2 linked regions of the Homo sapiens genome follow. The protein of the gene in region 1 interacts with the protein of each later gene in a biochemical or structural test. Each region holds a gene or a part of one and is shown on either strand. Other genes may lie near its edges.

Region 1 (6,992 bases):
GTGACAGTGGAGCCCTAGAATCACAGACTTGAGTTTCTTTTTTTTTGAGACGGAGTTTCCCTCTTGTTGCCCAGGCTGGAATGCAGTGGAGCGATCTCGGCTCACCGCAACCTGCGCCGCCTGGGTTCAAGTGATTCTCCTGTCTCAGCCTCCTGAGTAGCTGGGATTACAGGCATGCGCCATCACGCCCAGCTAATTTTGTATTTTTAGTAGAGACAGGGTTTCTCCATGTTGGTCAGGCTGGTCTCAAACTTCCAACTGCAGGTGATCCGCCCGCCTTGGCCTCCCGAAGTGCTGGGATTACAGGCGTGAGCCACTGCGCCTGGCCACAGACCTGGGTTTCAGTCTGAATGTTTCCCTTTCCTAACTGTCTTGGCTTTAGCAAGGAGCTTCTCGAATTTAGAGCCTGACTGCCTTACGACTGTAAAGGGGAGATGATTATTAGGATTCAGTAAGATACACATAACATCATTTAGTCCAGTCCCAGCACTTAGTAGGTGCTCAAGAGACAATAAACATATTTCTCCATGCATTACGTTTTGCCAGTAAGGACACTAAGGCCCATGGAGAGCAGAGCTGTGCTATTTCATTCATCCCTGTAACCCCAGCACCTGGCACATGTGAAGAAGTGAAAAATAATATGCCAGGATGAACAAGCCAGTACCTGGTGGAGCTGGGATGCCAGCTCAGGTCTTCCTGACTCCAGCCCTGTACACCTGGTCATCAGGCTGTCCTAGGGAGATCTGACTGTGGGGTGGCCATGGCAGGTGTATTAGTCTGCTCAGGCTCCTGTAACAAAATACCACATGCTGGGTGACTTAATCAAGAGACATTTATTTTCCACAGTTCTGGAGGCTGGGAAATCCGGCATCATGGTGCTGGCTGGTTCAGGTTTTGGTGAGGACTCTGTTGCTGGCTTGCAGGTGTCCGTCTTCTTGCTGTGTCCTCACATGGGGAGCGAGTGGAGAGTGAGATAGTGCTCTAGTGTCTCTACAAGAACTGTAAGCCAGGGCAGTGGAGCACACCTGTAGTCTCAGCTGCTCGGGAGGCTGAGGTGGGAGGATTGCATGAGCCCAGGAGTTCGAGACTAGCCTAGGCAACATAGGGAGATCTTGTCTCAAAAGAAAAAAAAAAAAAGGACCATTTTTCCCATCAAGGGGTCAGAAGGTCAGGGCCCCACGCTATGACCTCATTTAACTTTATTTATTTCTGTATAGGCCCCATGTCCAAATACAGTCACATTGGGGGTTAGAGTTTCACCATATGAATTTGGGGGGACCCAAACATTTAATCCATGATAGTGGATCCCCAAGCTGACTCTGACAGCCCTGCCTCTCCTACAGGCACCCTCTGTGAATGCTACGATGAGCTGGGCAATCGCTACCAGCTGCCCATCTACTGCCTGTCACCGCCGGTGAACCTGCTGCTGGAGCACACGGAGGAGGAGAGCCTGGAGCCCCCCGAGCCTCCACCCAGCGTGCGCCGTGAGTTCCCGCTGAAGGTGCGCCTGTCCACGGGCAAGGACGTGAGGCTCAGCGCCAGCCTGCCCGACACAGTGGGGCAGCTCAAGAGGCAGCTGCACGCCCAGGAGGGCATCGAGCCATCGTGGCAGCGGTGGTTCTTCTCCGGGAAGCTGCTCACAGACCGCACACGGCTCCAGGAGACCAAGATCCAGAAAGATTTTGTCATCCAGGTCATCATCAACCAGCCCCCACCACCCCAGGACTGATGGGCCCACGGACCCCTGGGAAGAGGCCCCGCCTGGAGCACTAGGCCCCCACCCTGCTGCTGCCTTCCAGTGCTGTCATTTTCTTCAGGGGCCCTCCCCTCGGTGTGGCTGGTGGGTGAGCCGTGAAGGGACCCTGCCTTTCAGGGCACTACGCGCCACCAGTTCCCGGTACCCAGGGAGCAGGCAGCCACACACGGGCCTTGCAACCTTGTCAGAGAAAAGGCGAACAGGGCCCTCACCCTGCCTGTCTCCCGAAGCAGGTTCGAGCCACAAGGGCCAACCAGGAGGCCCCTGGAGCCCAGATCTGTCATCTGGTGCTGCCAGCTGTGCTCACTCTGGTTTTCTGCTCAGGGTCTGAAGCAGCTGCTGTCTCCCTCCTCTGCCCCCATCCCCTGGCTCTCCCCTGGGCACAGTGCCACTCCCTTGGAAGGGAGGGAACCACCCGTGAGCCCCAGGGCTTGGGAAGCCTGAGGCGGGCCTCTGCCTCTCCCTGCCCCCAGCACAATTGGCAGAGATGAGGCGGGTGGTGGACAGCTGGGCTGTCGTGGCAGGGTCTGCACAGGGCCATGTCCTGGCTGTAACCCAGGCAGTGGGAGGTCTGCAGCCTGGTCATGGCCTCCACAGCAGGTCCCTGTGGACAGACATATCTGCATATTTATCAATAAAGCCTTTTGCTCCTTCTCGCTTGCCTGGCATTTGACTGAATTCTCCTGCAGCTCTGTGGGGCCCCTGGAGCTGTTCTGGTATGGGAACAGGTGGATGCCTGGCCTCCCCAGCTGCTCTGGGCATGCAATCTCCAGCAGAGTGAGCCTGGAACTGCCAGTCTTCTGGGCCCTGATCCCAGCTCCCCTGGTGTCCTCATGAGTCCTCAGGAAAAGCCACTCTTTGCTTTTCTTTAAAGCAGAGCCATGCTGCCTGCCCTGCCTCCTCCATCAGTTGCTGGGAGGATTAAGCAGGAAGACAGATGTGAAAGTGCTTGCAAGGCGAAGACAGCACCTCAGGAAGGTGGTCTGCTCCTGCAGCAAGAGGGGCTAACTTCCGGCCCTGGAGACGCTGTAGCCATCGTGATGTTAAAGCAAAATCTCTGACAGATTTAGATCGTGTGTCAGAGGTTTGTGTCAGCTTCCCAGCAAGGGAACCAGAAAGGAAAAGGAACCGGTTCCTCATGCTTCCTAGGGGAATGCATGCATATCTGAAGAGAAGGGAATCTTATATAAGGCTGTTTAGCTAAGGGCAGCCACCAGCCAGGTGAGCCTTACAGAAGCACAGGGCTGGGTGTCTGCAGTTCCCTAGCAGATTAACCTGGGTCACAGTGACTCAGAGCTCCAGCATGCGAGTTCCAGGTGTGGAACTGAGCAAGTACAGATCTGCTTTTGCTCCACTTGGGAGTATTTTTCCTTCTTAGTGAGCATGGGCAGCCTCCTGGCCAGGGAAGTCTGGCACTGTCTGGGCCTGACAGGGAAACCCTGGGAGGGTAGAAGGATCCAGAGTAGCTGCTGTTCCTCGCTAGCTGGGCTTAGTGCTTTCCGGAGACCCCTTTCTTGAAGCAAGACTCTGTAAGCCCTGCAGAGGTCCCCTGAGCACTTACCAAGAGAGGAGACAGATTGGATAAGGTTTGTTCATGACTAAAAGTCACCCAGCCAAATGCAGTGATGCTTAACGGGGAAGCATGTGGGACCCCGGAGAGCCGAAGGCCAGCGTGAGCTGTGATCAGAGAGGGAGACAGCTGCCCTTCCTGCTACCACGGCCCTGGCCTGGACAAGTAGAGTGTGACCCTCCTCACAGCCAGCAGGGCCTGTCTGCAGGACAGCCTGGGAGTACAGAACTGTCCTGGGTCCCCCGTTTGGTTTTCAGGCCCTCTTCCTGGAGCTGGCTGAGCAGGGTTTCCAGGCATCCAGCAGGTGGCACTGTCATCTGGGCTGGAGCATGCAGCCAGCAGTTCCCTTTTGCAACTCAGTTGCCTTGGCTAAGGCCCAACCAGTCCCAAGTGCTCAGGACAGAGGCTGGACGGGCTCCTTCCTGCACCCCTGCTCTTGGGACACAGTGCCCTCCGGCTCTAATAGGCCAGGAGTTGGGGGGGCAACTGGCTCTGCTCCCTGGCCCTGGCTCCCCCTGCTCCCTGGGGCTGCCCGAGGTGAAGGTGACAGGTGGGGGAGGCAGGTGGAGAATTGGGCCAGTGAGCTCATGGCAAAGGCGCCCAGCTGGGCAGGGGTGGGTGCTCTGGCCTATAAAGCCCCCGAGGCCCTGTGGCCTGCAGAGGCGGTTATGGACGGCACCATGGAGGACTCCGAGGCGGTGCAGAGGGCCACAGCGCTCATCGAGCAGCGGCTGGCACAGGAGGAGGAGAATGAGGTGCGAGCAGGGGTGGAGGTGCCCAAGGGGGTCTGAGGAGATCCAGTTCTGCTGTCAAGGGGAGGGAGATCCTGTCTGCTACACCTGTGGTGGGGAGGGGGGCAGATGTCCCCAGGGGCCCAGTTGGGCCTCATTCCTGTCCCAGGGTATTACTGGCAGGGGGTATTGCTGGCAGCAGAAGACTGAGGCTTCAGCCTTCAAAATTAAGTCAGTGAGATGGGGAGCTGGGCTGGGCTTCCTAAGACTGCTCACCCTCCTGGGCCTTGAGAGACAGTGGGCTGTACAAAGCAGACAGCTGGGTGCTGCCTGGGACTTTCAGGAATGTGTGGCCCTGTGATGCCCCAGTGACTGAGTGGGAGGCTGGGGCAGGGGAAACTCCAGTATTTGGCCAGTGAAGAAGAGAGTGAGGAAGGGATGCTGGGAAATGAAGCATGGATTTTGCCAGCCTGCTGGCCACCCTTGGGGAGTCCTTTGGCGTGTGGTGTTCTGGGCAATTGCATTTTCTCTGGGATAAGGAAGTGGAGCGGTGGCAGGGGGTGCTGGCTTGTCCTATTCTGCATTTTTTTTTTTGAGACGGGGTCTCCCTCTGTTGCCCAGGCTGGAGTGCAATGCATGATCTTGACTCACTGCAACCTCCGCCTCCTGGGTTCAAGCGATTCTCCTGCCTCAGCCTCCCGAGTAGCTGGGATTACAGGCATGCACCACCATGCCTGGCTAATTTTTGTATTTTTAGTAGAGATGGGGTTTCACTCTGTTGGTCAGGCTGGTCTCAAACTCCTGGCCTCAGATGATCCACCCACCTTGGCCTCCCAAAGTACTGGGATTACAGGTATGAGCCACCATGCCCGGCCCCTACTCTTCACTTTATTTAAACTAATACTTCATCTAGTGTTGGCTCTGCCAAGAGCCCAGAGCTGTAGAAATGGGTGGACCAATAAGGGTCAGACCCTGCCTTCTTTTTACCAACCCAGGATTCATTTTAGCCCATTTGTTGGTTTCATAGTCAACTAAGAAACAAGGCAAAGGGAAGAAATGACTAAATAGAGGTGTGAATCAGAAGTGGAGGAACACAAGGGGCTCATGAATTGTTCTGAGGGCCTTCAAGGACTCCTCTGTGGACAGGGCCAGGTGCAGTGGCTCAAGCCTGTAATCCCAGCATTTTGAGATCTGAGATCCGAGGTGGGCAGATCACTTGAAGTCAAGAGTTCGAGACTCACCTGGCCAACATGGTGAAATCCTGTCTCTACTAAAAATACAATTAGCCAGGAATGGTGTCAGGCACCTGTAATCCCAGCTACTCAGGAGGCTGAGGCAGGAGAATTGCTTGAACCTGGGAGGCGGAGGTTGCAGTAAGCCGAGATCGCACCACTGCACTTCAGCCTGGGTGACAGAGGGAGACTCCGTCTCAAAAAAAAAAAAAAGGGGACTCCTCTGTGGACAGGAGGATACCTGAGCTGGGCCTTCAAGGGGACTCAGTGGAGTCCAGGATGGTGGAGGGTATTCCAGCCTCAGGAAATGCAGGAGCTGAAGTTTCCATGAGTGAAAGCGTGGCTGTCTTGATAAAGTCTGGTAGTAGGGGCTAAGGCTGGAAAGACACAAGCCAGAGAGGGCCATGTAAAAGATATTTATTCTGTGGGCAGTGAGGAGCCACTAAATGTTATTGAGTGAGGGAGATTGGTGTCATCTGACCTATTTTAGGAAAGCAGCTCTGATGGCCCTGAGAAGGACTTGTTGGAAAAGGCTGGCCCTAGCAGGAATGGAGGGGAGGAGATAAATCAGGTTGGAGGTAGATGCCATTCAAAAAAAGGAGTGTGACTGAATGAGGGGTGAGGAGGAAGGAAGGGTCAAGACCCCAAGGGAAGAAGGGATGAGGTCAGGAAAGAGCTTGGAATGAGCCCTGGCTGGGGCAAGCATCCCTGGATCTCTAGGAATCCCACTTCTCCCTCCCCCAAGGGCATGTGCCTATGGTTGGCTGGTGCCAGGCAGGTGAGTCATGCTGCTATGCCAGTTCTGGAGTGCTGCCAATAGACACACAGACCTTCAGCAAGGGGACGCAGAGCAGTGTCTTCCGTTCATTCATCCAATAAATATAGCTACAGAGCTGTCAGGACACCAGTGCCAGGCCCTGTGCTAAGCATTTTACAGGCATTCTCCCATTTAATCTGCATAGCAATCTATGACGTAAAGTGGGAGCTTTGTGTGTTTCATGAACTCACATTCAATGCAGCAAACAGCTACTGAGCACCTACTGTGTGCCAGCCCACAAAGACAAACCTGAAATGAAGGGCTGTAGGGTCTGAGGAAGATGTGGGTGAGCATTAGAGTCCCCAGTTGTCTCTACCAGGCCCCAGCCTGGCAGGGTTCTTGGAGGAGAACCTCTGTCTAGCCTGTGCCCCATCCCCAGGGTGGGAGGGGAAAGAGGGCCCCAGAGGCCAGTGCAGGGGCTGGAGTTCCACTGTGGCGAGTTTACTGGGTTAGGTCATCACTGAGAACTTAAGGGTTAGCAGAGATGCTGAGTCTGCTTGCCATCATCCATTCGATCATTCATTCATTCACCAGTCACTAAGCACCTACTATGTGCTAGAGCCTGTCACAGATGCTGGGGACACCAAGATGATTAAGACACAAGCTCGGGAGCCACAGTGGCTCAGGCCTGTTGTCCTGGCGCATAAGGAGGCAAGGCTAGGCATTTGAGGCCAGCCTGGACAACATGGAAACCTCTCATCTATGTGACAACAACAACAAAATTTATAGCCGGGTGCAGTAGCTCACGCCTGTAATCCCAACACTTTGGGAGGCCAAGGTGGGCGGATTGCCTGAGCTCAGGAGTTTGGACCAGCCTGGGCAACATGGTGGAACCCTGTCTCTACTAAAATACAAAAATAATTAGCCAGGCGTGGCGGCATGCGCC
Region 2 (7,648 bases), about 11 Mb from region 1:
TAAAGGCATTTCCCCGCCACCCTCCTTTCCCAGTCTCCCTCTTGAACTCCCTTCTCTGTGGGTCTGCAAGCAGAGACCCTATGAAGGGATGCCTTGAGGGGCTGCTGCTGCCCCAAAGTTGCTGCCATGAGCCCCCGGGAGCCACCACCCAGCCTGCAGGTGGCCTGTGTCCTTCCAGGAGGAGCTGCAGCACACACCTGCAGCTGAGAGGGGACAGACCCTCCCCAGTGCCTCTCTATTAGTCCCAGTTAGAGGGGTGAGCAAGCCAGCATGGGAGTTAGGGGTGACAGGATACAGGAGATCCACCCATGGACATCCCTGTCCTGTGAGCAGACTCGAGCCTCAGTTTGCCAGGCTCTGAAGCGAGGTAACGATCCCAGCCTCGCCTGCCTGCCCACCCCACAGGGTCACACACTCTTGCCTCTGGTGCCCTATGGCACAGGCTCAGGTCCTGGCTGGGGTGGGAGTGGGGTTCCTCCAGAGAGCTCTGGCCATGCCTCCCCCGTAGGGGGATGTCCCTGGTGCAGAAGGGCCCTGCGAGCCCCGGCAGTAAATCCTACAGCCCTGGTGGGATGGCAGGGCTGTGTCCACAAGGCCTGCCCTGCCAGCGGCACTGAACCAGGACACAAGCCCAGGCTATCAGCAGCCTACCACCAAAATTTCTCAAGAGGCTCCGAGCCCTGGGGAAGGCTCCAGTACCCAGTCCAGCCTGCTCCGCGGCTTAGGTGATTTGGGGTATGCCCCTAAAGGAAGCCGAGAGGCCATATCATGCCCATCCCCCGGTGCCCTGCCCGAGCTTCGGGTTCTATTTTTAGAAGTCCCCACAGTCATTGGATCCAGCACATCCCTGCATACCCCCTCCCCAGAGTAAGGACATTCCTCCTGCTATCTAGCTTAAGGCTTCTGGGCTGCCATTTAAGCCCCTGGCTGGCCGGGGCCAGGTGGCACATAGACCCTGGGTGAGGTCATTGGCTATCCTGAGTGCCACTGAGCCCAGTGGCCAATTTGCACCCATAGGGATAGGGCAGGGAGCACCAGCAGGAGGCCTCGAGATGGTGGAGCTGGGGGAGATGTGGGCTCAGTCCCAGGCAGGGGAGGCCACAGGGCCCATGAGAGAGCACACAGAGGCTCCACCTTATACAGGAAGGAGTCCTGCAAGCATGGGGGTGGGGAGCTGTGGGAAAGGGCAGTGGGAAATCCACTGGGGCTCACATGCTCACAGGTCACCACCTCATGCAAAGTGTGCAAGGCTGTGGGTGCCCAGGACCCTGTGGTCTCCAGGGCAGTAGATCTGGAGGGGTGGAATCTCCAGGTTAGAACAAGCCACATCTGCAACTGAAGGATGGAGGTCAGGGCCTGTTCCCTGCACCAGAGCCAGGCCAGCACCCCTCCTGTAAGCATGTGGCCTCTATGGCTATTATAAGGCTCTCACGGCATCCCTGGGTGGGGCTTCTACTTCTGGGGTCCCCTCAAGTACCCGTGGAACAAAAAAAAGATTACTCCTCCACTGGGGGCATTGGCTCCTGACCCGCTGCCCAGGTTCCCTGGCCCCTCTGCCAAGCCCCTTCAGGCCTTGCCCACTTCAGTGCTTCCCCTCCAACCCCTTCCTCCAGCCCCCAGGCCCAAGGCAAGTCCTTAAGGCCCCAGAGAAGAAACTGTCCCCTTGTTCCCCTGGTGGGCAGTAGCCCAGATACCCCTGCCTACCTACCACCCTCCAGTGACAGACTGGGGGCCTCCCCCTCTGGCCTTGTGCCCGGAACAGCACGGTCAGGGGCTCAGCCACCAGGCAGGGTTGTCCTTGCCCTGTATGCCTCACAGTTCGCCCTGAGCCTTGGGGCCTTCAGCCCTGGGTCTACCAGTGCCTTGCTGGGGAGTCTCTTTGTTTGACAGAAACTGACGGAGTGCCTACTACGGTCTGGGGGCTGTTCCCCCATCAGTCCCTGCTCCTGGAGTGCTTCCTCAGGAGCATGGCTAACTTTCTGCCTCTCTGGTGTTGCTGTCTCCAGCCAGGCGGTAGAGTTACTCAGACAACCCCTGATGTTCTGTGTCATCTGCATCAGGCCATGCTGCTCCCCATCACAGACACTGCAGGATAGGGGGCCATCTCACCAGGCCCCAGCACTTGTGGGGAACAAGACCTGAGACAGACAAAGCAGCCATGGTGAATGGGGAGAAGCGCCCAGCCCCATGAGCCAGGGTCTTGGTGTCTCAAGTTTGGGATGGAGCAGGTGCCCAGTACTCAGTCCAGCCCAGCCCCACACTCTGACAGCTGGGCAGCCAAGGTCAACCGTCTGTCTGTCCATCTATCCAACTGCCCATCACCTGCCCTCTCCATGCTGGGAATACTCCCTTCCCAAAGCAGCTGCCCATATCTAGGGAAATGCTCAAGGCTTGGGGGCACCCTGAGCCCACTCTAACAGTAAAGGGATCAGGAAGGTGCTGTACTCTCTGTCCAGCTACCTGCCTGCCTGCCTGCCTGCCTGCCTGAAAACTCAGCATTTTCTTCTCTGCTAAAAACACCTACCACCTGCTCATGATGTCTCACATGCATAACAGGCCGGCGCGCTCCAGTGAGCAAACAGCTGTGGCTGAGACCAGAGGACCAGGCCAGTCCCAGGGGATGGGGCATGCTCTGCTTTCTGAGAGGCTCAGAAAGGACAGACAGACAGACGGACACACATGCCCTCCTCCAAGCGTGCCTGCCCCATCGGGTGCCAGGCTGTGGCAGGGTGCACTCACCCGGGAGATAGTGAGGGGCATGTTGAAGTCCTTGCCCCCCTGCAGACGGAAGCCCCAGGGCCCGGGCCCAGTCAGGGTCACACTGTAAGACATGCTGGTGCTGTCAGCGGCCGCCTCTGCAGACAAAGGGTAGAGAGGGTTGAGTGAGAGGGCACTCAGGCACTCCGCCTGCCCGGTCCACACCTCTGCCCCTGCCCCTGACCCCCAGCCTTGCCTGTTCTGTCCCTTGCTGCCCAGCCGGGCTGCGTGGAGCTCTTGAGAGGCTCCTAAGAATAGCTGGGAGCGAATGCCATCGACACTGATATCTGCCTTCGGCTGCGCCCATAAATGGACTGTAACCCTACACTGTGCCTGCCAGCCTGCCGCCTCCCAGCCGGTCCACCATGACTCACACGGCTAATATAGCCCCTGGGGAGGGGTGTCCGGCACCCAGCACCCCCCAGGGGGGAGGAAGGGGAACTGGCCTGGTTGGTGAGAATGCTCTGGTCTCCTTGCTCCTGTGTCCTCTGGAGAGCGTAGACACTCGCTCTTCCTGCCCAGTGGTACCCATCCTCTTGCTCAGAAGACCAGGGGCTGAGCTCCCTTGGGTAGGGGCTTTGCTGCCGTGTGGTCCCTGGCCAGGATTCTGGGGTTGTGCTTTATCCAGTATGGGGCCCTGGAGGTGCCTTGGCTTGAGCTGAGCCTCCAGCTGGTCTGTGACTGGCCCAGGGTTGTCCAGCCATAAAAACGATCATCATAACAGCAGCTCTGGGCATAGCCAACCTCAGTATGGGCCCTTCACTCCCTGGGATCCTGAGAAGCTGCCACCTGGGCCCGCAGGAGACAAAGCTCAGGGAGGTTAAATGACTTCTCCAAGGTCACACAAGGAGTGGACCCAGGTCACACTGGAGCCTGGGCTGATTCCTACAGAATGCATGCCAGATAATGGGCTCCCAGTAGCCACAGAAGCCTCCCAAAGCCCTGGTCCTGGGCAGCTGGCCCTCTGCCTGCACCCCTTGGCATAGGGTCTGAAAGCAGGTCTGAGGCAGGCCCATCCCCTCCAGACCCTCTGGGGGCCCAGCCAGTTATTCCTGGCTCTCCTGTCTTTGTGCTCTGGAAAACTTGACGGCAGCATGGAAAGCTCCAGCTGCCAGTGCCACACGCCAGGCCCCGTGCCCTTTGCGCAGGAATGGCAGGGGGCAGGGAGAAGGGAGGAGACGCCATTTGCTCAGCTGCTAGACACAGGGCCAGGAGGGGCAGGGAGGGGGAAGCACGTGTGGCATGTTCAGCCTGTACCCCAGAGACAGTGTGTTCTGGATGGGGGCCTCAGCACCTTGGGACTTCTGCCAGTGCGGTCTTTGGGCCAACCCCTTCCCCAAGAAAGACCTCAGGCCCCTATGTGGTCTGGAGATAGATCAAGGCCCACCCTGGCTCCTTGGTTGGAGAAACTGAGGCTCAGGGGAGGCAACTGGGTTGGCTGCTTGCTGGCCCTCTTGGAGGGGTCTGGCTTGGACCCTGAGGAGTCAGTAGAGGCCTGGGTGTGAGTCATTTCTCAGCTTCTAGCCTCACTCCTGGGGCCTGGCACATGCAAGGTACAAGGTAGGATCACCCATATTACGGGGTTGTTTTGTCACTTGCCCAAAGTCACAAAACTATCAAGTGGAAGAAGTCAGGAAAAGACCTGTGTCCTTTTCCCTGCTTAATCACTTCCTTCACCCTATATCATGCAGCCCAGCCCAGGAGGCCAGCAGTCCATGGCCAGCATCCCTTCCCCATACCATTCCCTATCCCTCTCTGCAAAGCCCCATGTCATTCATCCCTAACTCCAGCCTTATGCCCTTTCCTAGGGGTGTTTGTCCATCCTGCCAGGCTGGGGAGGACTCAGCAGCAGGGCATAACCAGTGTGGGAGAAGGAAGGCACCCACCCTCAGGGCCAGGGAGCTGGGGGAGGCTGTACCTGGAGCTGCACGCTGTCTCTCTGGCCTCTGGCTCCTGCCTGATGAAGCTCGCCTCTGGGGAAAGGGAGGGGTGGCAGGAGAGTGCTCTTAAAGGCGAAGGCCGGCCTCCCTCCATCCGCCTCCCTCGGGAGATGTGAAGCCAGTCAGAGAGCAGCTGGTACCCATGGTCTGGGCGGAGTTCAATGGCTCACTGGGGAGTGAGTGGGGATGGAGGCCAGCCTGGCCTTTGTCCCTTCTCTGCTGTACTCCTTGCAGTTTGAGGTGGGCCTCAGAGTGAGAGTCCCAAGAGTGGGGACAGAGGAAGGAGAGGAAGTGAAGTTGCTGGAGGCATCAGAGGCCAGGCCCTGGTTCTCTCTCCCATAGCAGCACCAACACGTAGAGACCATATTTGTCTGAAGACACCTTCTCCGCTTTTTATTTTCCTATACCCTGTCAGATCCACACAGCCCTGGGAGGAGCTTAGACCACTACATGAAATGAATCACAGACGCAGAGTGTGCACGCATGTGCTTGGTGTGCATTCAGATAGGTAACTACGCGAGAGCGTGCCTGCAAATGCCCGCGTGCACAAGAATGTGGGCCACAGTGGAACGGTACACTGGGGGAAGAAGCCACAGGTGAGTAACTGTTCCAGCGTGCAAAGGGAGGTCTGTGCTCGGCTTCAGCTGTTGGCAGTGGGAGATGCGGGGCTGGCCTTCCTATGCCAGTGACAGGCCCAGCCTGGGGGCAGAGGCTCATAAATAGCTGGTGTGTTCTCTGGAGCCATCACCATTGTCATCGCCTGGACAATTGCAGCACACAGCATTTGAGGAGAGGCAGACAACTCGGGAAGTGGGAGGGCCTGGGCACATACCCCTCAGGCTGAGCCTCGGGTGCGGCTGCTGAGCTGGAAAGTGGATGCGGAGGACGTTATGGGGCAGGAGTTTTGAGGTGTGGAGAGGGGCCATGGGGCTGGGGCTGTGAATCCCGTGCAGCACGGGTGACAGGGCCACTTCCAAAGCCTGCAGGCTCACAGCATAATCCTGGGTCTGTGTATATGAGGGAGACGTGGGGGGGCTGGATGTGTCTCAGAAGAAAGGGAGAGCCAGTGGGCGTCCTACATCCTGGGGTCCTGGCTGGGGATCAGCCCCTTGGTCTGCAAACAAACAGCACACATCTGTTTAGCTGAGGAGCAGTTCACTGGGGGCAGTCTCCCGATGACCCTCCACACACTGGGTCACCGAGCAGTGGGGGAGGTTGCATGGAAGGGCCAGGTTGTGTCCTGGGTCAGGGATGGGCCTTCCCAGAGTCCACATCCCAGAGTAAGAGCTGGTAACGCCTAACGCTGCCTACAGAGCATCTCCTGGGATGCTCCCCGGGCTCTTGACTCCCGGGGTCACAACTGAACCCATCCTCACCCCCACCATCCAATCCGCTCCTCTCTTCCACATGTGGAGACTCTGGCATCACCCCCGCTCCTGCTGTCCTTAAATGGGTCATCCCTTTCCTGCCCTGCAGCACTTCCTTCTTTGGTCTTCACCCTGCAAAGCTAACCAACCCCCTCCCAGGGCTTCCTGTCCCCAGGTCAGGTCTGGAGACACCTAAGCCAGTCCCTGATGGGGCCTTCCCACTGCTCCTACCACCTCCGCCTCCTCTTCCCTTCTCCTATGTCCCCCACTGCCAATCCCCAGGGTCCCTCTGGCTGCTCCCAGGGTCACAGAGAGACATCCTGTTCCAGGACATATTGAGCTCCCTCCCCTGTGCCCCTGTGTTTGCACAGTCACACAGGCTGTATCCTCATCCTGGACAGCTCAGTGCTCCCCCCACTCCCCACCCCTGCTGCCTGCAGATCCCTGCTTCACCTCTATCTTCCTGGGGAACCTCAGGGACTTGCCTCTGCTTTCAGTACCCTGCGTGCTCACACCTCAATGGCAGCGCTTATCACATGTGTTTGGTGATTGTTGATGGCTGCCCAGCAACCCCCCTGAGCCTATCCCTCCAAGACAGGCACTGTGTCTTTCATCAGTGCCTGGCCAGCCTGGGGGTCACTGCCAGGCCTTTGTCCTGGCGTTTATGGCATGCACAGTGCCTGGGCTCCAGGACAGGGTGCGGGGCCCCCGGGGGGAATGCTGAGGGAGGCTGAGGCTCCCCGACTGCAGGTACAGCCCAGGGCTTTCGTTCTTGGATGCACAGGGGCACAGCACTCAGGAAGAAAGGCAGGCAGGAATGTGCCTTTGGCCTTGGACTAGCTAGGGAAGCTGGAGAGAGCCCAGGAGCTGAGCTGAGGGTGTTGTGTGGGTGTGACAGGAGGGGCAGATGGGGAGCTGTCAGCTGGGGCGAAGGGCTGCTTGGGAGCCTGTGCACACGACATTTCCAGTGTTCCAGAATATGGCCTTCTCTAATCGCCATCAACATTCCGTTCCATAGGCACTTGGGCCGACAGCTGGCCTTCTTTTAATAGCCACAAGTATTCCGGGTGACATCCTGATCTTAGGGCATTTATGGTGAGCACATCCACAGCTTACAGCCCCTTCCTCCCCAGGTATGTCCAACCTCGCAGTCACACAGAGAGGTACATACCACCCACACTCAGTCACATGCACAGCTTAAAGCAGACACATTAGGGCATGCTTAGTCACGTGTCACTGGGTGTTACAGTGACAGAGCATGTGCCAGGTGCTACAGTGATGGAGCATGTGCTGGGCACATGGCCACACACATGCTCGAGCTATGCTCTGACGGCTGCAGACCTCCTACCCTCATCAACACACACATGTACTCTTATCATGCCACAGCACAGCCAACAGCACCATGCAGAGTCAGAGTTGCATGATCACACACACACACACACATGTGCAGACCATATGCAGGCCCTGCTCAGAGCATCTCAGAGTCACAGAGAACCCCAGGCAGACAAGGAAAAGCTGGGAGGTGCTGGGAGCAGGTGATTCCTGGAGGATATCGCCCCTGCCCATGAGAACAAGTCTCTCTTT

What was found.
Region 2: the proteins of ANKRD2 (region 1) and LDB3 interact in far-western blotting, tested with the Homo sapiens proteins (one study listed by BioGRID).

What each region holds. Positions count from the first base shown.
Region 1 is NC_000010.11:97,568,795-97,575,786, forward strand, and holds the start of ANKRD2 (ankyrin repeat domain-containing protein 2), read left to right. Parts: upstream 1-3,994; coding exon 3,995-4,081; intron 4,082-6,992. Other genes in the region: UBTD1 (ubiquitin domain-containing protein 1), read left to right, coding at 1,344-1,729. UniProt on the Homo sapiens protein: Functions as a negative regulator of myocyte differentiation. May interact with both sarcoplasmic structural proteins and nuclear proteins to regulate gene expression during muscle development and in response to muscle stress.
Region 2 is NC_000010.11:86,663,876-86,671,523, reverse strand, and holds the start of LDB3 (LIM domain-binding protein 3), read right to left. Parts: upstream 3,014-7,648; 5' UTR 2,954-3,013; exon of another isoform or gene 2,856-2,953; 5' UTR 2,833-2,855; coding exon 2,740-2,832; intron 1-2,739. Other genes in the region: OPN4 (melanopsin), read right to left, coding at 7,533-7,648. UniProt on the Homo sapiens protein: May function as an adapter in striated muscle to couple protein kinase C-mediated signaling via its LIM domains to the cytoskeleton.